Regions from separate parts of the Homo sapiens genome. Here all the other regions are linked to region 3. The links come from fine-mapping of genetic effects on gene expression. A gene starts in region 3. Each other region holds a variant in brackets. All regions are shown on one strand. Distances are between the middles of the regions. Region 1 overlaps ETV6 (ETS variant transcription factor 6). Region 2 overlaps ETV6 (ETS variant transcription factor 6). Region 3 holds the start of ETV6 (ETS variant transcription factor 6).

Evidence for each region.
Region 1: its variant is fine-mapped to the expression of ETV6 in whole blood (TOPMed, PIP 0.97).
Region 2: its variant is fine-mapped to the expression of ETV6 in whole blood (TOPMed, PIP above 0.99).

Annotation. Positions count from the first base shown.
Region 1 is chr12:11,753,315-11,761,497 of GRCh38, reverse strand. The region is part of intron 2 of ETV6 (ETS variant transcription factor 6); the gene reads right to left. Among named protein-coding and RNA genes, the nearest start is that of ETV6, 110 kb to the right of the region's middle. RefSeq lists enhancers at 2,823-2,872, 7,870-7,919. The variant G/A (reference allele first, on the strand shown) is at 4,040.
Region 2 is chr12:11,825,570-11,833,752 of GRCh38, reverse strand. All of the region lies in intron 2 of ETV6 (ETS variant transcription factor 6), which reads right to left. Among named protein-coding and RNA genes, the nearest start is that of ETV6, 180 kb to the right of the region's middle. RefSeq lists a silencer at 1,374-1,443 and an enhancer at 3,271-3,470. The variant C/T (reference allele first, on the strand shown) is at 4,340.
Region 3 is chr12:11,645,418-11,653,600 of GRCh38, reverse strand. ETV6 (ETS variant transcription factor 6) reads right to left here and starts at 3,927. Exons shown (of 8, transcript NM_001987.5): 1 at 3,441-3,927. The coding sequence starts at 3,473. RefSeq lists enhancers at 398-447, 778-887, 4,925-5,024 and silencers at 3,575-3,734, 3,745-3,794, 4,005-4,214, 4,505-4,744.

The sequences.
Region 1 (8,183 bases), 110 kb before region 3:
ACTGTTTAATAACCATCTGTGAGGTAGATCATCTCTTTAAAAAAGATGGAAAATAATAGACAAGGAACCTCTTTTTACTTCATTTAGTTTTGTTTCTAACACTCCAGAATTTACACACATACCTGAGACTATCTGGCAGATAACAGTGTGCATACAGGATTGGATATGGAAATTTATCTTCCTTCAAGTTCAAAAGATAATTTGGTTTATAGCTCTGATTTTATCCATCTGGGCCCTCTTGTCAGTAATTTATATTATGCTTAAAAATTGGAAAAAAAAATCAGCCTGTTAGCTTGGATATTCTCCTTCTAACCAATAGATAGAATGAAACAACTTTCATTTGCTCCTCAGACTTTTAAAGAGTAATAGGGTGAAGTGGAAAATAAAAGTCTGGGTTTTGGAATTAGATACGGATTCAAATTGGGGCTCCTCCACTTTCTCTGGGTGACCTCGGGCAAGTGGTTTACCTGAGCCTCAGGTATAATATCTACTGTGCAGAGTTTGTTATTATTCAGGATAATATATATGAAGCATATACATATACACACATATATACATATATACACACACACACATATACTTTTATATACACACACACACACACACACACACACACACATATATATAATAATAGTAGTGATCATTATTTCTTCTTCCACACAACAATGCCACAGAGATTCTCTAGAGTGGCTTTATGATCTTAAACACGGTTGACCTCAGAGTGGCTCCTAAGGAGAAACACAGGCTCCTGTGAGCTGGCAGGTAGGGTACAATGACCAAAAAACTAAAGCTCATTTGCAAAGATGAGCTACTTCTGGAAAACAAATGGGTAATAAAATCCTAACAATGATACTTCTCAATCAGAGCTCCATAAATTGCTGGATACCCCTATAATTTTTAAATGGTGCTATTCAACACCCTAAAACTTGTCCTAGGTGCTTTTAAAAAAGTATTGTTACATCTTCCCTTACAAACCTTCACCCTCCTCAGTGAACCATTTCAGTTAGTACCCCCACCCCAGAAGTAGAGAATTTAGCCTCAGCTGACCTGGTAAAATAGGGTATTCACTGCGTAGCCCTGTGCAGTCAACTTTCCCTTCTAGGTATCCAATCGTCATCCACCCCACATCTACAGTTCTTTATCCATTATCCGTACCCATCATCTGCATTTCTATTACTGGAATCTTACAGCCCCATTTGAGAGCTACTGGTATCCATGATCTGCTGGAAGCAGAAATGGAGACCAATGTTGAAAGAATGGGGTTTTGTCCACACACCCAAGATGGAGGCAGTAAATATTGGGGCAGTGTGACTAATTATACTTGGGAATTTACAGTCAGCATGTGGCCAGAGCCAGGGCCAGTTTAAATCTCTCAAGTCCTGCTCTACCCCTCCTTCAGAAGAGATCAGAAAAATGAACCACAAAACACTCACACATGGTACAGGCAACTGAGAATCAGAATCCACCCATGGCAACAGCAAAAGCAGCAACATCTAAACGTCGCTGCTAACGTTTACCTCTGATGAAGTTGTCAAGGTCATCCTGCCAGAAACCCCAAAAGTTTGAATTACTAATGTGGTGTAACTCACACATGAAGCAAAATGGGAGAAAATATCAGTTATTTGAGCATGGAAACTGCTGTATTTGTATATACTCAGCTCAACCAATGCTTTCTGATAATCAGAGGAGGTGAGAAGTAACTTAGAGAAGCACATTCAAGCCAACACACTGAACCTTTATCACACCTGCCAGAAAGCATTAGGTAGATACATGTAAGGGTGACTGTGGAGCTCATGGACAGGAACTCCTCAATCTGCGGAAACCCATCAAGACGAGAGAAAGACCACAGACGTATTGAGGGTTGGGAAAATCCAAGAGGAAGCAACGGACAGAAGAAAAGAAGAAATGGAAATAAAGTTTCTGATTTCCTGTTGCTGTTCAAGTTTCATAAAATGGACTGGTTCTCATCGTCTTTTATTTTTTAAAGGGTTCTCTTAGTCTGCTATAACCTTTCAGTGTTGAGTCTAGAATAAAGCTGGGCACCTCTGGGCTCACATAAATAACACAGAGCACCAGGTAGGGACAACCCATTGTCAACAGTTTCCAAATGTCTACTTCAGAACTCTGAGGAAAGGGAGAGCCCGTGACACTAATGAGGGGCCGTGCCATCTTCATCCTCCCCTCCCCATCCCCCACAGCGAAACCAGGGCCACTTTGTCAGAGCTGACGCTGGAGGAACTGCCTTAAATGTACACAGAGCTCACTGCATGAAATGTGAAGTGAAAGAAAAGGTCAGTAAACCTCTGGTTATATATTTTTTTTCTTAAAAAAAAAAAGACATCTATAAATAGCTGCATTTATTGAAGCTGCTTCCTTATCAGGAAGCATGGAGCTAGGAATTAACGTCTGCCTGCATCGGAAATTCTTTCAGACAGCAAACCCAAAAAGGAAATTTCCCTTCCAAAGCATCCTGGCTGTTCTGCTGTGGGCTGTTTTTGCTCTTCAAGCTGTTTGAAGCAGCTAACCAGGGCCCTCGTACAGCCACATGTGCCGCGGGGAAAGTAGAAAGCTTCAAGCATTTGGATGTAAAAAGTGAAGGCACCCAAAAGAAGGCTTAAGGGGGAACAAAGTAGAAAATGCTAGTGGCTGGTCGGCTTTGTTAGAAGTCATTACTGCTTTGTAAGACACTGACAGAGAATTAAATCTCTTCTCCTTGTCCTTGTCTCAACTCTGCTGGTGATATCACTGCACGTCACAGGCAGCTGTGAGGAGAGGCCATTTTTGGAACACTGATGTGATAGCAAAGGACAGGGGAGGACTTGATAGGTATTAGAAGAGTGGGGAAGGCTGAAGGAGATTCACAGATTCAGGCGAGAACGGGAAGAAAGTTCCAGACTGAGGGAGAGACATGTGGGTAGGAAAAGGTCCTGGGATGGAGTGCCCTAGAGCAAAACTGAGCCCCTGGAAATCACAGGGGATCGTTTGAAAGCAAAGCTTATTTCCATTGTGACTTAGGAAGATTAGTCTCAATAATACACAGACAGAACCCTAGGTCCTTTCTTTAATGAAACACACAGACAACGACATGTCTGCTTCCCTTGGCTCCTGCATGGGGAAGCCACCTCCTCAACAGGCTATTCACCATAACCGGAAACAGAAATGGAGCTTTGGTGAGCTACCTGGCCACTGCAGGCCAGGCACTATGCCAGGTGCTATACATAAATGAGCTCTGATACTTCTAAGAAGCCCTCATTAGTAGGTGTCGTTAGAAACTTGAGTCTTAGAGAGGTTAAATCATCTCTCTAATAGAGCCAACCCTGAAATTCAAGTCCATTCACGTCTATCCAGACCCAAGCCCTTTCTATTACCATGGTTTTTTATTTGGAGACTTCCAAAAGCAGTGAGACCCTGCTCCTAGAAGGGCACCCCTAGCAAAATGCTGGGGAATTGGGTACTGGATTGAGCCCACTCTCAGAGCTGGCCCATCAGGGCCTACAGGACCAGCCCTGGCATTCTGGTTGTAGGGAGAAATTCAACTCTAACCTGAGCTCGCAAGAGAACAAACGGGGAGGCAGCAGGACTGGTGAACAAAACCAGAATAAACCATCCACAGGGACAGGCTGTTATCCTGATTCCTCTCCCTCATCCTACTACGAGGGAGAAGCCAGTCTGCTGAGGATTCAGCACAACTTCATGATCAGGTGGCATCACTAGAACCACACCGGTCCCAGTCCCTGCACCTGTGGCTGCCCAGACTTCAGCGGTCAGCAGTGCCTCTACTTTCAAGTCCATGAAACTCTTTATGTCATTATGTTTTCTCCTAAAAAAGCTGAAAGGTGGTTTCAAGAAGTAGAAATCACATTCGGCCTTTCACATGCTGTGTGAACCTGGACAATCCAGTTGACCTATCGGAGACACGGTCAGCTCATCAAACAGAATCAATAGCACCTGCTTCAAGGACTGCTGTACAATTAAGTGAGACAATAAGTATGAGCGCATCTTGTTATGTATAAAAATATAAAATAATAATGATGATCAC[G/A]TTCAGCTCCCAATTTTGCCTCTTTTTTTTTGGGAACAAACATAATGTGAAAGCATATAAAATTGTTGCTCTACCCAATTAGAAAAGAGAGGCACTGCATCCCTTCTCACTATGCTGGTTCTAATATAGCTGTGCCTGTCACGTGGCTGTCTTAAACTCAGTTACTCTGCTGAGAAGGCAAAACAGCCGAGTGGGTGAGCAGCGAGGTAATGTTTCCAAAGGAAGGCATTAAATTAAATTATTAAACACACACAAGCAGGAGTAGTAATGTAAGAATTTTGAAAGATTCACAAGGAAAGGAAAGAGAGCCAAGGGACTATTTCTGGTGTTCTGACTCCAGAAAACGCCGAGCGGCTATTATGGCTATTTATTAACCTGCAACATCATAAACCCTAACCCTATTAAATATGATGAATGAGTCCTACGTTCCGATTTTTAAATATAATTCACAGGGATTTTAGAAGGCCAAATGGACACTGCAAAATGCACAGTCTGCGGGCAAATGGCGCAATGTCAACTAAATGTGAAATGATCATGTTTAAAAGAAATTTAAAATAACGACATTTAATTATTTAAATTCTGCCCCATCAATCTGAACTATACTTATATTGTTATCCTAAGGCGGGGCCTGAGCATCACTGTCTGAGGCCCAGTGTTTCATAAGGTAAGCCTCTGCCAATGAGCAGGCTGGCAGCACCTCGTGAGGTGCTGTAACTGCCCCCTTCAGCAGCCACTCCCCCATGAGTTTAGAAAAAGGGCGGCCTTTGGGTAGACAAATCAGAAAACATCCCTCCCTTGCGAGACTACAAGTCCCCTGGTGAGAACTGGGCAAAGGTATCCTTTGCTCCCAGCAACAGCCCTTCTCTGCGTAGAGTCAAGAGTGACCTTGCCTGGGCACCCTTGGGGGTCCTTGGTCTTTCAAGTGTTTTCAAGCTACAATGAAAAGCTTATGTTCCTTTAAAGAATGCAACTTTTTTTTTCCCACCTGTCTACTGTAATTGTACTTCGGCTCTTCTACCCTCAAGCTTCAAAAAAAATTCAGTACCCTTTATGGAAGAAGAGGAAGAAGAAGAAAAAATGATGCCCTTTCTATCCTCTCAACAAACATACTTGTGTTTGCTCTCCCGGTAAGCAGAGGGGTTCTGCTGTAGGACTGTTGAAGGGCACTGTCCTGGTAATCTGGGCAGTGAGTCAGAGCAGGATGGCACGGTCTGGCCTTTCTTCCCTGGGCTCTCCTCTTGCACTCTGCCCAGGCTTCTTTGCCAGTCCTTTTCAAGTCCTCTCTAATCAGCACTTAACACTTTACTCCATTTATCACTTTGCTTTTATCACTGGCAAATAAAAGGAAAAGGCATCACTCTCTACTTCTCAATAACTTGCTAATTTGTCATGCTGTGTCTTCAGTTTGGGTATAGCTCTGTGTTTGCAGAATAAAATGGTGAGAAACTCTCTGTATGAGAACCTTAAATAATATGATCTCTGCTCCTCTTTACCCCCATCCACAAGAATATAAGTTGATTTAAGAATGAAAGAAGAGAAAGGAAGAATTAAGGGAGAGGATTTATCTGGTAATCAATGGAAAATGGTGAAAAGAACCCACTTTGAGGCATACCAATCTGATGAGTATCTCTTTAAAATAAGCAGCTACAAGTGCCTTGGACTTAGCAATACCATAAATGTCCCGCTGTTGTCTTGGCTTTGAGATTCTTCCCCGTACTTTCCATGAGCATTCCACTGGGAATTGTCTGGAATCCCAGATTAAAACAGCAATAACCCAATTCCCTGGTTAGAATATTTATTTTCTTTTAGGTTTGGAAACTCAGCTGGGATGCATCTTTAAGTGTGTGGCACAGCTTCAGTCATCGTAGGGGCTATATGCTCCTCTCAAACAGGATGACAAGCAGCAGAACCCTGAAACGGGAGCGGGAGGACAGAAGCTCAGCCTCATTTGGAAAGTCCCAGCTGAGGGCAAACAGCAAGAGCCTGGGAACCTCCACTTCCAGAGGATTCAATACAGATGTCAGAACCAATGGTGTCACAATAGGTCTCATGCAGACTACCAAGGAGAGGTATATAAAGTTAGACTGCCATAGAGTAGGCATTCAGGCAAAATCATTACCATAATCTGAATCCATAGTCTAACTACTGATGAAATGGAAAGGTTTCCGGGAATGTGCTGCAGTTCTATATTTTATAGCTGTCTACGTGGGGACCCATCCATCCTTCGAAGGGTGATATGCAAGCCATTCAACAACAGATAGAACAGACAGAACAGCAATTAGAATAGATTCCAGCCATAAACCAATGCTACGGCCACACCAGTGAACACTGGCTAAGTGTCAACCCTGAATTCATCCATCCATCCATCCATCCAATAAATATTTACTAAACACACACTTTTTGGTGGTATAGTGGATATAAGATCCTAGGCTCTGGAGTCAGCCAGAACTGAGTTTGAGCCTTGACTCTATCTCTTACTGGTTCTGTGATCGACCTTGAAAAATTACTTAAATTGTCTAAGCCCTTATGTGTGACATGGAGATAGAAAGAAGACCTACCTGACAGGTATTGTGAGAATGAATTAAAAGAATTCCTGTAAAGGACTTCACACAGTGCCTGCTACAGGGTAATCCCGTGATAAATATTAGCTATTATGGTTGTGTGCTAGGCACACAGAAGGCACTACCAAAATGCTGGTAAGCAGCACAGACACGGCTCAATAAGGAAACTGTCTACTCAAGAAAAAATTCAAGTGTTAGTATGGAAGAAACAATTCAAAGCAAGGAGAATGATGCCTCAGATGAGAATCATAGTACTTTAAAGTTAGGAAGGCTGTTAAACATTTTCTTGTCAACACACAGTATTGTATGCTAGGAGAACTGAGTTAAATTACCCACAGTCGAACAGCAGAACTAGCTAAAAGTTAAGATCTCCTGACCTCCAGTTCAGTGTGTTTGTTTGCTTTCTTATTTGTTTTGTCAGGATAACATCTCGTGGAAGATAGTTAAGGAGCTTCCATATGTCAAGGCATCCAGAAGTGAACCAGGAGCGAGGGCCTCCTTGGGGGATGTTGCAATCTATAGGAATAAAACGTTATGAAAGAAATCTCAGCCTGTTTGTGATGAGTGTTTGATACTTTTTTTTTCTCTGTGCTAGAATTTAAGTTCCACAAGAGCAGGGGAGTTTTTTCTGCTTTGTTCATTTCTGCACCCCCAGGACACAGAAGAGTGCCGGGCACAGCAGAGGCAATCAATAACTATTTGTGAGATGAATAAATGAATGAATTAGGTAGCAGAAGTGTTCTGCCTGTGTGGCATGAGTATGTTCCATCCTGAGGCGAATATTTCTGAAGTGAATATATCGGTCACAGGATGACTTCTGGAGGAAAATTTCCTATCACTTGGCTGCTGTTTCTTTTCCAGTTGTGTCTGCTCCCATGGTGCCACAACATTCCAGTTTCCTAAGAACACTGATGTTCCCAGCCATGACCCTGGCACCTTTACAGTTCGAACCTCCTTAAAAGTAGAGGAAAAGATGGTAGAGTAGGGCTGTGTCCTTTACTTCCCTGCCCAAATGAAGCAGAAATGTCTTGACCATAGTAGGCAGCAACTTCGTAAATACTGATGGACGCAGCAAGCTGCAGGAGGGAAAGGATTCTCATGCCTCCAACTCCTCACAAACATCCCAGCAACCGTCTGCCCTCTGGGGCAGAAGGCATAAGCCGGCGGCAGTGTTCCCCCAGGAGCCCCCATATCACAGTCATCTGATTCCCTGAATTACCAGAGAGAGAAAGGAAGAACCTGCATCCTCTGTCTCCTGTTCTCTGCATTCAGAAAGCAACCTTCTGAGGAGGGTGGAACAGGAGGAGAAGAACTGGAGAGCATCACCCTGCTGGAGAGAGATGGTGAGCAAGACTGTGCCACCATTTAAGTCACTGGAAGGGCCAAGGTGACCTCAAGTGTCCTCTATAAGCTAGTCTTGTGCCCTCAGGATAACATTCAAGGCAGAGAAGCTGGCATTTTCTTGGACACTGTGAAGAGGGTGGGAATCAGGTGATTCAGTCTCTCCAGCTGCCCCAATCCTGTTTTATCACCTGAGCTGGGTGGCAGTATGAGAAAGGCAGACAAAAAGGACACAGCAGGTG
Region 2 (8,183 bases), 180 kb before region 3:
GCTATGTGCCAGGAGTCATTCTAAATGCTTTGCATATGTAACTCATTTAATCCCTGCAGCAATCCTGTAAGACAGGAATGATCCCCATTTATGGAGGAGAAAACTAGAACACAGGGAAGTTAAACGACTTGCCCAAAGTCACTCAGCCAGGAAATGGAAGAGCTGACATTTGAATCCAGGTGACCTGGCTCCGAGCCCACGTTAAAAACTACCTAACTCTCTAAGCTTATTTGGTGTTTTGGCAGGATATCAAATTAAATTTATGACTAAATTTTAAAAAGAAAAAGTTTCACGGTAGTTCAGCATGCAGGCACTGAGCACAAGCATGGAACCTCTATTTCCCAGCTGTGTGACCTTGTACAAGTTACTTAACCTCTCTGTGTCTTGCTGGTGTCAACTGAAAAATGAGGACAACTTTCATCCTGTGAATTAAATATCATTGAATCATAGATAATGTACTTATACAATTTTCAGATGACATAAAACTAGTGTAGAGTAAAATTATACACATGATGATGATATGAAACACACAGGCCAATATCTGGCATAGAGCAATCACTTAAAAAACATTAGCTATTGCTTTTGTACTGTTATTGTTATAATCACCTTTATAATCTCACCCTACCTGAACATATATAGCTAGCACTTGGAACCCAACTGTAAGAATGTATATTAATTGATATTACATTTTATCTTATTATTTTTAACCATCATCCCAGCCTGCTGCAGTCTTCTCCAGATTTCCATCGATTTCTAGCATCTATACTCTGTAATTTCACGTCATCTGTGGCTTTGCTAAGCATCTGTCACCTCCACAGGTTACTGACAAAGTGCAGATCGTATAGGGCTGAGATGGGAGTACCCTGGTGACACACCAGTCACCTCCTTTTGGACGGATACTGATCAAGTTATTGACTCCTTTTGGGAAGAGTTGTTCAATGATCAATCCATCTAAATACTCTGGTTTTTGGACATTTTCCAAGCTCATCCATGAAAGCAACATCAGAAATTCAACGAAACGCCTTCCTGATATCCTGAAATACAGCAACTACAACACTTAGAGCAACCTTATTAAAGAAGATGAGGAGAGAGGATGAGGAGCAGATGGCTGGCTCCAAAGTGATAATGTCTTCCACTCGTAACATGTATGTTTGAAAATCTGTCCTGAATTTTATCTGGAAGTTCCATCAGGTTAGCTGTTTTATTTCGTACCCACATTTTCCCCAGCTTCTCTTCCTAAAATCAGGTTACCAACAGTTCCTATTCTTTTAGTACAGCTTCCATTTCCCACAACCCTGAAGGATCACTGCCAGTGGCTTATCTTTCACCCCTCTGAGTTCTCGACCCTGGGATGTCATTTGTCCGGGCCAAGAGCCTTGCATTTATTCAGAACTTAGTTTGCTTTTACAATCAATTCACCCATCTCAGGCTTCAATTCCCTTCTGTCAATGTTTGCACTACCTGTTTCAGTCTGACAATCATTCTCCTTCATGGGAGAGAGAAAGAAGTTGAACAGTTTTGGTTTCTTTGCCATTTGCTGATGTTACCCCATCCAACCCCATCAGCAGGCTGACATCATGCTTATTCTTATCCTGCTGCCCACATTTATTGTTTTCTTAAGCGTATTCCATGGTTTTCAGCTCACTTACGTTTTAAAATTCTAGAGCTCAGAAACTCTCCTTTATATGTTTCTTTTCATTAAGTTGCTTTTTCATCCATTATATACATCTTTTTAAAAATCGGAGCTCATTAGACTGGTACTCACAAAACAGTGAGAAGATAAATTGGCATCATCTCTCTGGCAAACAACTTAGTGATATTTTAAGAACCCTGTAAATGTTAACTTCTCAGAATCTACCTTAAAGAAATAACTTAGTATGTGGAAGAATCTTTCATGCACAAAGATGTCTATTGCAGTGTTATTTTTAATAATGAAAAACTAGGAACAGCAATAAGGAAATAAGTAATAGTTACTGACAATATCTATGATAGAAAATTAATGCAGCCAGTAACATGATGAAGAGTATGTATTCATATTGAAAAATAGTATGTGTACATATGTAATAATCTCAATGCATAGAAAAATACAATGAAACGTAAAAATATTCAAAGAATTGACACTCAGTAAAATTGTAGGTGATATTCCCTGTCTCCTTTTCCTTTTTTCTTTCTTATTTCTCATTCTCTATTAAGCATGTTTTACTTTTATATTTAAAAAACTATTTAAGGGCTGGGTGTGGTGGCTCACACCTGTAATCCCAGCACTTTGGGAGGCCAAGGCCGGTGGATTGCTTGAGGTCAGGAGTTTGAGACCAGCCTGGCCAACACGGTGAAACACTGTCTCTACTGAAATACAAAAATTAGCTGGGCATGGTGGCAGGCGCCTGTAATCCCAGCTACTTGGGAAGCTGAGGCAAGAGAATTGCTTGAACCCAAGAGGTGGAGTTTGCAGTGAGCCGAGATTGCACCACTGCACTCCAGCCTGGGCAACAGAGTGAGACTCTATTTCAAAACAAACAAACACACACACAGACACACACAGACACAGACACACACACACACAAACTATTTAAAAATTGAGCTAATCAGAGAATATCCCCAATATCGCCTCATCAGTTTCTTTAGTTGTCTCCCTTCCTTCTTATTCCAATAAGGGTCATATGCAGTTGATAAGTCAGGATTTCATTTTCAAGAGCAGCCCAAATGACTCTGAGTTGTGTCTCAGCATTCAGATCATGAGATCATAAATACTTTTCCCTACATTTTAAAAATTTGTCTTAAGTCAAGAAAACACATCTGTTCTTGTCTCTCATTTCCCTTCCCCAATCCTAAAATCATGTTTTTATTCTCACCCTCTGCTATCATTTCTACTTTTCCAGACAATTCCTCATTTGTCAGATTTGAGTGCAAATTAGCAATGCTCCTCAATGCATCTTCCACCTTCTGGGAGATGAAATTGTGAATTGTTAGGTACATGTGTTAAGAGTTAACATGTCCATGCATGTAGCTGAAGGGGATTTTGCAGTGATTTGCACACGGTGCCTGGCACATAACAGTCCCCAGGTTTAATGCCAGACTGTACAGCCAAAGATTTCCATTCCTAGGCAGTCCACATCTGAGCCAGCTCTGCAGTCTGTGATTGGCACCCCTCTCCTCCCCGACACATCTGATCACTTACTCCAGCTCTGGCTTTGATGGTCAGGACACTCAGCTCTGTGCAGTTCAAAACATTACCAGATGCTTCCGCATCCATGTCATGCCATCATCTATTCTGCGAGGGAGCTAAAGCTGGCACAACTGTATTTTCAGAAGAAACTGAAGTTCAGAAATCGAGGGACTTTCCCAAGGTCACAATGAACCTAAGACCAAAACTCCAGCTCCAGGCTTTCTGTATTACCCAGTGAACTTCCCCTGGGTTAAAGGAAATAATGGATGTAAAAGCCCCTTGCACTCTAAAATGCACTGTAAAAATGTTAAGGGAATGAGGAATAATAAACCATAAACTCAACTTCTCATGGCAGGCCTGGTCTAGCTGCAGATCCCGAATACTGCTCGGTGCCCACAGAGCACCTTCTGACCTCTGCTTGCCGAGGGCAGGGTTTACTTAGAGTTCTTCCCTGTGTACTCTGCCCTTCAAAAGAAAACCAAGTGTCCTCAGAGCCCTTCAAGCTGCTTCCCAGAGGCACTTTTCCGGAGACTTTTCTGCCTCCTTTCCCTTCCCCACCGGCCTGCTCTCTGCAAATCTGCTCAAAACCCCCAGGCCAGCCTTGGATGCATTCTGACAAGCTCCACATCTCACTCCTCTGGGTCTGCCTGTAATCTTGAATGTGCTATCTGACCAAAGCTGCTTTCTGCAAACAAATCCTGTCACTAGGGAATTGGAAGTTCCAAAACATTTCCTATTTCTGTCCTCAAGGTTAGCCTGTATCTCAGCACTAAGTTTCCAAGTGGAGGTCGGAAGGTTATACTCATGTCTTTCAGCCCAAAGTCCAAGAACAAGAACACTCTATGTTCATGTTCAGATCCAAAGTCACAGTCAATTCCCTCGAATGATGTTTTTTCTTATAAACTTCATTTTGTGGATTTTTCTGACTTTTATCTAGTTTTAGCTACAAACGGGTTTTTAGCAGAAAACCTGTTGACAGCAAAACTGACCCAGAGCTTGCCGCTCAGCCTCACAAACGTGACTTAGAAGAGTTCTTCTCATTTTTGCTTCTGGGTAGCAAGCCCAATGTGGTGAGAGCCATGTAGCATTTTAGATCAGACCTTGGGTTTCGCAGTCAAATTGTCCTGGGTTAAAACACCGGCTGCACCACTTACTAGCGCTGGGTTAGTTACG[C/T]GTCTGAATCTGTTTCTCCAGCGGTAAGATGGAGTCCAGAATAGTACTTACCTCTTAGGGCAAATGTGAGCATGAAATGAGGTGATCCCTATAGAGATGTTGCACAGTGCCTGGTACAGAGCAAGTGCTCAATGCATTTTGGGGGGTTGGGTAGGACAAGGACTGGATAGTAGATGAGTTGTACTTTGTCCCGTGTCTCCAGAAGACCAAAATACTTTCAGCAGCTCCCTGGAGCTGCAGAAGCTGGAGCAAGCATTCTTGGAAGGTGCATGACGGCTCTGGCAGGAGCTATGAGGCCCAGTACAGTGCTTTGAGGAGGGGACTGAATTGTCATCTTGCAGGCTGGGAAAATGGCTCAGGTGGGGTTGCGGAAAACAGCCTGGATCAGGGAGAGGTTGGAGGAAAGAAGGCTGAAGGAGGTGCCCGCTCAGGCCCCAGGCTAGGCTGAGGCAAGTAAGACATTTGCCCCAGGAGCAAAATTTAAGGGGTACCTTTAAAAAGTTTCAGTAATCAAGATTAAGTCATGTAACGCAATATTTTAAAAATCAAAATTAATGCAGAAAATGTATGGTGACGTAAGCATCAACATTTTAATTAAAGTCCATATCAAAAAGAAAAAAGATAATGGGGAGGGGACAGCAAAAAGGGAGTGGGGAAGAGATTAGAGCAAGTACTTCTCAGCGTTAGGAAGAAGGTACAGGATTCTTTGAGAATTCAGCCAGAGTTCATAAACAAACCCCCCTTCAAAATGCACAGGCACATGGACACAAATATTTGCTTGTGATTTCAAAGCTTATAGACTACCTCAAGTTTATCCATGGATCCCTGGAGAATCCGTTTAGTATTTTTTTTAGTCTCGTGTATGCAAATAGTTCTGACAATATGTACCTGTGAGGTAATGCGAAAACCAAATCAGGTTTAAGAGAGATATATGTCTCTCCTGATATTTCAGGGAGAAAAACAGAAAAGAGAGACACGAAGGGTGCCCTCTTCTCACTTAGAAGTGGGGGTACAATGAAATGTTTGAGCTGTCATTTCTTTATTTGAAACGCACAGTCCTGACCTTAAATAGGGAATGTCCCTTCTTCAGTTATTATAGACATCATTGCTAACATATTGAAAGTTTTTCTTCATAGTAGTTAGGGTCAATCACTGCAAATAACCTTAATTTACGTACAATGAGGCAACTTGGCTATGCAAGGAGAGATACTATACAAGGATGAGTTTCTAAAGCAAAGAGGCATTAAGGCAGCATTTCCTATACTGCAGGGCAGAAAGGTCATTTTTATTATCAAACTTACTGATATGTATGCTTACAAAGAAGCCTGAGTTTAAGAAGAAAAAAAAAGTAGGAAAATAGATATTAAGAGTTGAAATGTTCCTCAAACAGATTTATTGAGAAATCGAAACTGCTGGAGGAAAGTTGGTGCAAGAATGTTTGTAATCCTCAGCAGAAATGGATGGGGTACAGAGAACATAAAGATCCTGCAGGATTTGCATGATTCACAGAACATGGATACTCTCCTGAGGGTGCCTGAATAAAGAGGGATGAAAATTCTTTCCCCTCCTGCTCTTTTAAACCGCACACGGACCATCTCTGGTGCCCGGCACAGTCTGCAGAACATTCCTGTGCAAAGTGTAACCAGAGTAAAACTCATTCTCATTCTGAACTGGGACCTGATCTGTCCGTCACTTGCATGGAGGAGGCTTGGCTTTGTGTGGCTCAGCTGTGCCTGTTCCCAGCCCTCTCGGGTGTCTCTATTCTCCTGCGAAATTTTAAAAAGCCTCTTCTCAGGATGGAGACAGTCCTGATAATCACTGAATTCCAGGAGGAGGAGGTGGAGGTGGACAGGAGGTGTGGGGGCAGGGCGCGGGGGCTGGGAGAAGGGAGTGCGAAAGAGGTGTTGAACTTTTACATGAACAGACCTCAGAAAATACACATAGGGACCCAAAGGCAAATCTGACCTACAGCACCTCCAAAGCATGGCTTTTCTAGAACATGCTGTTTTTTAAGGAGAATTCCACTGCACCCCCTTCTTCCTTGTCCTCTTCCCTGGCTCTTTGGAGAGTGCTTCCAAGTGCTTTCAAAGGCCCGGTTGGTTGCCTTTGGGTGTCGAATCTACCCTCCACCGAAAGGCTGTCTGGGCTGCTGCTGATTCAGCATTTCGCGGGGCAGACTGCTGTGACACACAGGCAGGATGAAATCATTTTAACAGCGTTGCTGACGCCTCATGAAACAAACAAACAAAAAAAAACAAACTTGGAGAAGCAACTTCTATTTAAAGATAATTGTGTTGCATTTGTGTGTGTGTGTGTGTGTGTGTGTGTGTGTGTGTGTGTGTGAGACAGACTTCTCTCTATTCTATTCTATCTCATCCCCTTATTCCTCCTTTCTGAGGACATTCATACGGAAATGGCTTTTATAGACCTATCAATAAAAAAGCTGTAATCTTTTTTCTCACCAGTTATTAATATATTCCCTAGTATTAGAGTTGTAAAGGTTACTAATCCCCTGGCTTAAGATGGTCACTTGGAGTCAGGAAAGCTAAACACCACCACAAAGCGAACCCCGTCTCCCCTTCCAGGGCCACAGATATGTAACTGGATGTCTCATGCTTTGTCCCTGGGCTTATCTGAGACTCCAAGGCTCATACTGGGAGGCCCTCCCTTGCTGCAGAACACTTTTCTCCTTGGCTCTGTCACCCCACCTGGGATTTTACATTATTCATTCGTTTGGATGAAAGCATGAAGATCTCTGTACCAGAGGAAGCAGGCAAAAGGAAAATGATAAATCAATACAGGCTGTTCACACTTAGCTTTGGTGGGTAGTCAGATGAATGAGTGGGGAGGAATGAGTCAGGTGACCCTTGAGTTTTAAGGGCAGACTCCCAAGTAGGTGGCAGGGGTCCTGGAGGCAGGATGGTAGGAGTGACAAGAGGTAGGAGCCCTCACTCCCTTCGGCCCGTCATCATTCATGGCTTACGATTCTTCAAAGGTGCTTTTCATTCTGTGCTGGAAAAGGTATGAGTGTTAACAATATAGATGTGAATATTCTGAGTTCTGGAAAGAGGCCGATGTCTGTTTTTTAACTTTGACATGGGAGTCTGGAAAATCTGTGAAGAGCATGAGTGGCTCATCATGGATGGAGCAAGTAATGCTAATCCACCAAGTGCAAAAATGCTCCCCTGAGGTTGGGCAGAGCGTAAGATGGGGTGAGGTCTCTGGGCGGTCTGCAGGCTGGCCTCCTGCTACCCTACTATTTGTAAAAGCATGCTGTTGGCCAGGTCCTGTGGCTCACACTTGTAATCTCAGCACTTTGGGAAGCCAATGTGAGAGGACTGCTTGAGGCCAGGAGTTCGAGACCAGCCTGGGCAACATAGCAAGAGCCCCATCTCCTTGAAAAACAAAATAAATTAGCCAGGTGTGGTAGTGCATGCCTGAAGTCCCAGCTACTCAGAAGGTTGAGGTGGGAGAATTGCTTCAGCCTAGGAGTGGCTGCAGTGAGCTATGATTATACCACTGCACTCCAGCCTGGGTGACAGAATGAGGCTCTGACTTTAAAAAAAAAAAAAAAAAAAAAGGCATGCTTTCTACTGTTGTTGGCAAGAATTGCTAACTTAATGGAAATATTTAAAATCTCTCTTAACCACGTTATAATAAAATGAAACAACGAAATTCAAATCCTGTTTTTGTCACTTACTAGCTCAGTGACTGGAGATGGCTGAATGTTGGCTGCCAAATAGAAATGTCCGTGTCCTAATCCCCAGAACCTGTGAATAAGACCTAATTTGAGAATGGCTCTTTGCAGACGTCATTAAGTTAAGGATCTCAAGATTATGCAGGT
Region 3 (8,183 bases):
ATTACTGAGAAATATTTCTATGCCAGCTGCCAAGCTAACTACTAGGACACCAAGATAATCATCACTAAACCCAAGGAGCCCAGAGTCCAGAAGGGGAGCTCGAAAGAGTCTCCCAGTTAGTAGCAAAATTTTAAAAACCAGATTTCCTTCTGCTATGAAAGCTGACTGATACGGACAGCAGGGAAGGAGGGGACTAGAGACACTGTGTGACTCGTTTTTGGATTCTGGTTAGTCCTGGCCCACTAACAAGCTGTGCCAAGCCTGACAAGGGACCGTGTCTGCTAGGCCACAACCACCTTCCGCTGCAACTTGGTCAAACTTAGAACTGAAGAGGTGACTTGAAGGTGAAGGCTGATGATGGAAAAGACAGCCTCTTCCTTCTTCCTGTGACCAGCACAGTCAGCCAGGCAATCCTCTTTAAAACAATTTGACTTTTTATAGAGAGTTGATCCTTTCCTTCCATTTAAACGACCCCAAATGGTCAGGAATTGAAGCATTTGAACTTCCATGACAACAGTGCCACAACCTTCAAGGGTTGTAGGACAGACCCCCCCAGGAGTGCTCGAGCACTCCTGCTTTCTGCAAGTCGCGTGTAGAGAAACAATAAGGCTCAGTGAGAGTTTCAGTGCCCTTGGAGTAGTCAACCTCTCTTCTACCGTAAAAAGTGTGTGTCTGATATTAACTTCCCCAGGCGATGGGAGCAAACTTACACAGTGCAAAAGAAACAGAAAAGCCCTTATCAGGCATTCATTGCGAGCGACCACCACATGAGCCATCTTTACAAAGGCGTCACTGATTGACCAATTCAGAAACTTTCACCTTGGAAACTCCACCCAAATCGGACACTACTCTTTTCTAGCAGAGCAGGCACTGCTCAGAAATAAACAAAGTACTTCCCTCTGTGGCTGCATCTCACCAGCCGCTGAGGAACTGTCTGCCTGCTGACCCGCTACTTGTAAGGAATGAAAGCAAGTGAGGACGGTTTCAGGAGTGGAGAGGAGGACTGGGAAAAACCTCTCCACAGTGAGAGCCTTTTGTGTCACAGGAGTTCGGTATATCAGGTTCATCAGCTCATCCTTGAAAACCTCTGACATTCGTTCTTCACTACACAGAAAAGCATATTGTTTACTGGACTCTAGAAGCAAGCAACTTGCTTGTGGGTTACCAGCAAACATTTTTTATTATGCAGTCACCGTACCACATCCCAAGGACTAAATGAAACGCAGCACACATCACCAGAACATTTCAGATGACCTGGAATAATCCCAGTCCTTGATCTCTAGTGCTTATTATTGGAACACTGAATTAAACAAACTCCATGGAAAGATACTCTTCACATACGTTCACCTAGACACATGCAGTCTAAGCAAATACATACTCGTTCCATAAAGAACGATCCAAAATAAAAGTGATTCTTTCCTTTCTGGTAAAGAACATTAAATCTATTTTAATTACATAGAAGTACACAGTAATGAAAAGAGGCACCCTGAAAGAACTGAGTTGTAAGCAATAAGGAAAAAAATGATATGCAAATTACAGACAATTTTCATGTTGCATTTAAGAACGCGTTTTGCTTGGGATTGGTTCTGTATGTGAGTAAGGCAAGGGACTGTTGTACTCTTTTTCCGACTGGAGCACAATGAAACAAACCACTCAGTAGCAGTCTGCAGCCAGCACACCACCATAAGCCCATCAAAACGGTGGGGATGCAGTATAGAAGAGGATCAAGAAACGTCACAGAAAGCATTGTTTTTTGTTGTTTTTGCCCTAAAGTTACTGATCTGTAGTTGGCAGATTTTCCTGATGTCGGGTTTATTGCCACTGAGCCAAATACAATTTATTTATTGAATATCCTACTATTTAGTTACCTCTATGTTATGAAGCGTCAAATAAATTAGATTATCTATACCGCAGGATTTTCCTGAACTCTGTGTAGAATCTAATTTATACCGCAAAAGAAACTGGTTTTGAAGTATTAATATCAAAGTACCCTAAGTTCTTTAGTGTGGCACGCCCCATGCCCACAGACATACATACTGCTACCTCCAGTTATGTACAAACACAAAAGCCTAAAAGTTCCATTAGGCATTTTTGTGAGGCAAAAACAAAGAAGCCCAAACCACCTTTTGATTTCACATTAGCCTATCCTCAAACCCATGAATATCTTTTCTGATAAGAAACACCAAAATGTGATTCTAATTATAAAAAACCTAGTAAGCACGTATGATGAACTACTGCGTTTCCCCTACACAGACTCTAATTGAAAGGCAGTGTTAAACCAGGAAGGGTTTTTCTAACTCCCCACAGACGAAGAAAACAGGTTATTTGTTCATTGTTGCTGTAGTGTCCATTCAGTGAACACACATTAAATAGGCCAAACCAAAAACAAACTTCAGCAGCTTCAGCCTCTCACAAGAGCGGAAGGCTTTCTACCTGGGTACTGGTGGAACAGCGAAATGAATAAAGTGTACAATAAATGCAGCGATGGGAAAAATAACACGGGTAGATGGATAAATCATCCTGCCTCCCAATGGTGGCAAACTTTACAACAACTTTTTAGAAGCAACAAACCGCAGCACCACAGTCTTTACAGATATATAGACATGCATACACACAACTACTGGGTAGCCCAGCAGTGTGTTTACAAACATCTACCGCCCTGCATTTACAGAGTGCTGCTTAGATAGCCTCTCTGCACTGTCAAACACAGAAGGTCATTTTGCCTGGTTGCTTAGTTCTTCCTCTCCCTCCATCACAGGAGTTTTCTACTTTGGGATTGCTCAACTTTCATATGGATCGGAGTAAAATAACTATTCAGCAACTTTATTCACCTTGGTTTTAAAAAAAAATTCATTGTGCAATGCCTAGGAAAAGCTGACACCAGGACTGTCTCTCCGACAGCGCTTGCAATTACAATCAGACGAGGGGGAAAAAAATCCTGTCTGATCAGACCCAGAGAGTCCTTTAAAAAAATAAAAAGATTCTATCGCAGTGGAAACTGAACAACTTTTTTTCTAAGACGACCACCCCTCGGGAACAAAAGTTATATTTCAGTCACATGTTGGGTGTAGGAATAGGGAGCAGGTTTTTTTTTTTTGTTTTTTGTTTTTTTTTTTTTTAAGCGCACTAATTACGGGGGTGTTTTACGGTTCTGGAGACAATCCGGGTTGCTCTGACCAATTGTGACCGGCATTTCATTGTCAAAAAGCAAGGGGGTGGGGGCCGAGGAGCCGGCAGGGGCTCGGCGGTGGGGGGGAGTAGCAAGGTTACGCTAAAGGGTACAGCAGCCACCGCGAGCTGCATCTCTTTCCCTCTCGCCCCAAATAATTTCCTGCGAACAGAGCAACTGCAACAGCCTGCTCTGAGGAGCCCAGCACGACTGCCCTGGCCGGTGCAGCTCAGGGTTTCCACCACGTAGAAGGAGGGGAGAAGATTTTTACCTTAATGCTACACTGAGCAGGAGTCTCAGACATGTCTCACAGCGAGAGAGATCAGGAAGTTCTCAGGTTTTTTCCACTTTCCTTTCCTCTCCCCAACCCAGAAAGGCTCCACGGCCAGCCAGACGCGGTCATTTAAGAAGTTTCTTCCAGCATCTCTCCCGGCAGCCGCCCCGGGGGTCTGGAGCGCGCGGGGCGGGGCGGGGCGGCCGGCGGAGTTGGGCGCGCGGGGCGGCGGGGGCGTGGGAGACGGGCCCGAGCGCGGCGGCGGGGTCTGCAGGTCGCGGCGCGGCGCGGGGACCCGGGACGCAGCCCGGCCGGCCTCCCGGTCTCTCCTCCCACCCGCAGCCGGCGCCCCCGCCCCCCGCCCTCCCGCGGCTCTCCCTCGCTCTCTCGAATGTTTTCCTTCCTGGAAGAGAGAAACTGAAAGGCAGAACTGAGAAAGCTCTTTGCTCATTGATCTTGAGAGTTTCAGTGCAGAAACTGACGTGAATTCCCAGCACTGAGCTCTGCCTCTTAAAGGAGCCACCAGGAAATAAAAGCTCGGGTTACAGCCCGGCATCGGGGAAATAAAAGCTGCGCGGGGGAGGGGCGGCCGCGGGGGCGCGGGCGGAGGAAACCCGGGTAGCGGGGCCGCGTGGGGCCGCGGCTGCGAGCGGGGCGAGCGGCGCAGCCCCCCAGGCCGGCCCCCGGTGCGGGCGCCCGCCCTCCACGCCGCGAGACCTCCCGCTGGCCGAGCCAATTTCCGGGCTTAAGGAAGACACCTTTAAAAAACGTTACATTGTGGCCCCAGACACCACAAAACAGGTTTTATTAAACTCCTCCCACCTCCCCTGGCTCCGTCTCTTGGATACATCGATGTGCACAAGGGTTTTGAAACGTTTCACTAAGCGCAGATGCAACGAAAGTAATTATCTATGAAGGGCCATTCCGGTTAGGACGCGGAATCCGAAGGAGGAAATAAAACAATAGCCTTTGTTCTGCTTCTCGACCGCTGCCTCTTTAAGAGAATCCACCAGGAAATGGGAGATCGGGTTACAGCCTGCACACGGGGAAATGTGGGGAGAGCGGGCGCCCGAGCGCGACGCCGGAGACAAAGCCGGGGCGGCCGCGCCGCAGACGCTGGGGGACCGTCGGGCGGGGGGATTCCCGGGGAAGGTGGGCGCCCCGGAAAGAGGTGGCGCCACGCGCCCGCTCGGGGATGCGGCGGCCGCGGGCGCTTCCCGAGCCGAGCACGCGCTCCGGGAAGGGAAGGCTGCAGGGCAGTTATCAAAGGCAGCTGAGTTCCTTTTCCTGACCTCCCCCTCCTGTTTCGAAATCCACTGCCCTTTTAAAGAAATAGCGGCCGCTACCAACCGAAATAGGTGACTCGACTACAAAGTTGGCAGGACGTGTTCCTGCAGATAATACCCCTCCCCAGGACCGCTTCTCTGAAACCGTCATTGGCCGGTTGATTGGATGGCCCTGGGATCCTGCAGGGGGAGGAATATTTGGTTGGAAAAGCAGTTGAGGGGGGTTAAGGCCGTTGGGGCTGAAGGGTCTAGCCCTGAGCACAAGTGATCTGATCACTCTATTATTTTTATTATTATTTACACTCTCTTAAAGTGTCCACCACAAAAAACTGAGAACATTATCATTATACTTAAATTCTAACCTTGTTAGCACATATTGGGGGTTTAATATGTGGATGTGTAATGTAAAAGGAAATTTGTTATAATTTCTTAATAGAGTAATATATTAAATATGGTATAAATATGTATATACGCATATATACCCATATATGTTACCTGCACTGGACCAGGACACATTTCCCCGAGTCTCCCCACCCTACAGATTTTTCCTACCCACTTTCCTTCACCTCTTCACATTATCAAATGTGTTGAGACTTGTACACACAATATTTTTGTTCACACATTGATCAGATCATTACGAACGAGGCTAGGGTGGGAAAGAGTGCTGTTGCTGGGATGATGGGAACTGGTGGTTGTGAGCCTCCAGGAACCTGAACAGGTTTTGTCAACTGGTAGTCCTGCCCTCTCTCCAAGAGATCTCTGTCTTGTCCACACCGACTCCTCTGCCTTTGACCACCCCCTTCTCCCCTTTAACAATTTTCTGTATTCTTTTGCTTTTTTTTTTTTTTTTTTAAGACGGAGTCTGCTATGTCGCCCAGGCTGGAGTGCAGTGGTACGATATCGGCTCACTGGAAGCTCCGCCTCCCGGGTTCACGTCATTCTCCTGCTTCAGCCTCCCGAGTAGCTGGGACTACAGGTGCCCGCCACCGCGCCCGGCTAATCTTTTTTGTATTTTTAGTAGAGACGGGGTTTCACCGTGGTCTCAATCTCCTGACCTCGTGATCCACCCACTTCGGCCTCCCAAATTGCTGGGATTACAGGCGTGAGCCACCGCGCCCGGCCTCTTTTGCTTTTCTTAATTGATGTTGCAGACATTGGTTTAGATGTCCCATTGCTAGGTTATGTCTTCCACATCACTTAGCAATGTGATCCCTGACAACACAGTCACTAAGCTTCTGTAAAATGGGGAGAAATAGTACCTAGCTCATAAGATTATCTTATTAAATAAGAAAATATATACAAATGCCTCCTTAGCAGAGAGCTGCACAATATATGTGCTCAATTCAAGTTGGCTACAATTATTATTTAACCCCAGGACTAAATTAGTTCTCGACTTTTCTTCCTAACTCCTCCTCAACGTCTACAAGTGATTCATAGAAGTAGTAGTTTGAAGTAGAATGTTTGTGGTTCCAAAGCAAAAAACATAGTTGACAACTGTAGCAAAAACTACATTTAGACCAGGGGTTGCCAATCTCTGTAAAGGGCCCAGCTGTAAATGCCTTAGTCTTTGTGGGCCAAGAGACAAAATTGAGAATGTCAGGTAGATACTTATATAACACGAAGAAAAAAAAGTCCACAGTTTTTTATTTTGTCAATTCAAAGTGTAATAATAGCAATTTTAATACAGGTATAATAATGAAAGGCATGGAATTCTTTTGGGGGGAAAGTAACATTTCACTTGGTGTTCAAAGTGTTCTTTCATAAAAATTGACTGCAGATGTTCATCTATTAATGCTGATTTTTTATGAGATTTTATGTACTTCATTTTTGAAATGTCTTTCTACCCAGACAGATACCGCCAAATACTGATACCAACCCATGAGCACATGATTTTACTTGAGTGTATTCATTGCTTAGAAGGCATTTCTAAAATTCTATTAGAATTCTATAAATTCTCTTGATATTTCCCCTTTAGCATGCCATTACATTGCAGATTAATCACTTCCAGTTGAAGGTTAAATGGAAGCTTCTCAGTTGCACAGTTAAGTAAATTTTAAATATGAAAATTTCCTTTGCACTTGCATTGAAATTCAGAAAACACTGTTGGTACTGTAGTTTGAGTTCAGAAAAACATAACTGCTGCAAATTTGTGTTGGAATGGAGATCTTGCTTCTTGTTTTAACTTTTGACAGCATGAGAAGTGTGTAAAACAGCTTGACATTATTTGTGATTCAAACAATGTTAGTTGTGTCAAAATGATTTTACTGCAGTTTAAGTTTTGCATATAAGCTCTATTTTGCCTTGTAGTTTTAGGTTAAATTCATAAAGAAACATTATTGAGTCTGTAGTAAAAGCTTATTTGCAGAGCCATTCAGTGTTCAATAACAGTGGTTGAGGGAAGTTTTTCTCATTCATTCATTTCCATTTGTCGCTTGTTTCTCTGTTCCTTGTTTTCTGAGAACTTATGGGTAAATTGGATTTTTTTCTTTCATATTCCATTTAAATTACTAGATTGTCTTTTTAGATTTTCTTCTTTATGTTAAATATGGTGGTTGCTTTAGAAATTACAATTTGCGTATGTTATTATCACAGGCTACCTTTAAATAATATTATTCTATTTTATGAATCTGTAAAAAAGTTACAATGTAATTCCATTTATCCCTCTCCCATCCTCTGTATTGTTGTGTTATATTTTACTTCTATATGTTATAAAATTCATTTTACATTGTATTTTTATGGTATTTAGAAATTTGTAAATATATGCATATAATGAATGTATTAAAGTATGTCTCTTTTTAATTTGCCCAGATATTTATCCTTTCTAGTACTTTTTTATTCCTTTTTGCAGATCTGGTTTTCCATCTGGTATCTTCCCTTTGGCCTCAAGAACTTCACTCAGCATAGCCTGTGTGCTGTTTGTTGGAGAAGTCTCTCAGCTTTTGTCTGCCTCTAAATGTCTTTAGTTCATGTTCACTTTTGAAGGGTATTTTTACTGTACGTAAAATTTTATGTTGACATTTTCTTTTCTTTCAGCACTTTAAACATGTCATTCCTCTTCTGACTTCATATTTTGCTAAAAAATCACTTGTAGTACATATTTTGGTGCCCCTGTGTACAGTGTACACTTTTTTCTGTAGCTGCTTTTAAGATCTGCTCTTTAAATTAGGTTTTCAGAATTTTGACTATGATGTACACAGGAGTGGTTTTCTTTGCATTTATCATTTATTCACCTTGATGTCAGCTGCAGTTATTGGATCTGTGGGTTGGTATCTTTCATTAGTTTTAGAAAATTGTCATTTATTATCTGTTTGAATATTTTTACACCCATTCTGTTTCCTTTTTTTATTCTTAATACAAGTATTAGACCATATATTATTGTTCCATGTATCTCAAATACTCTGTTTTATTTCCTTGTATTTCCTTTTTTTTTTTTTTGAGATCAGCTCAGGCTGGT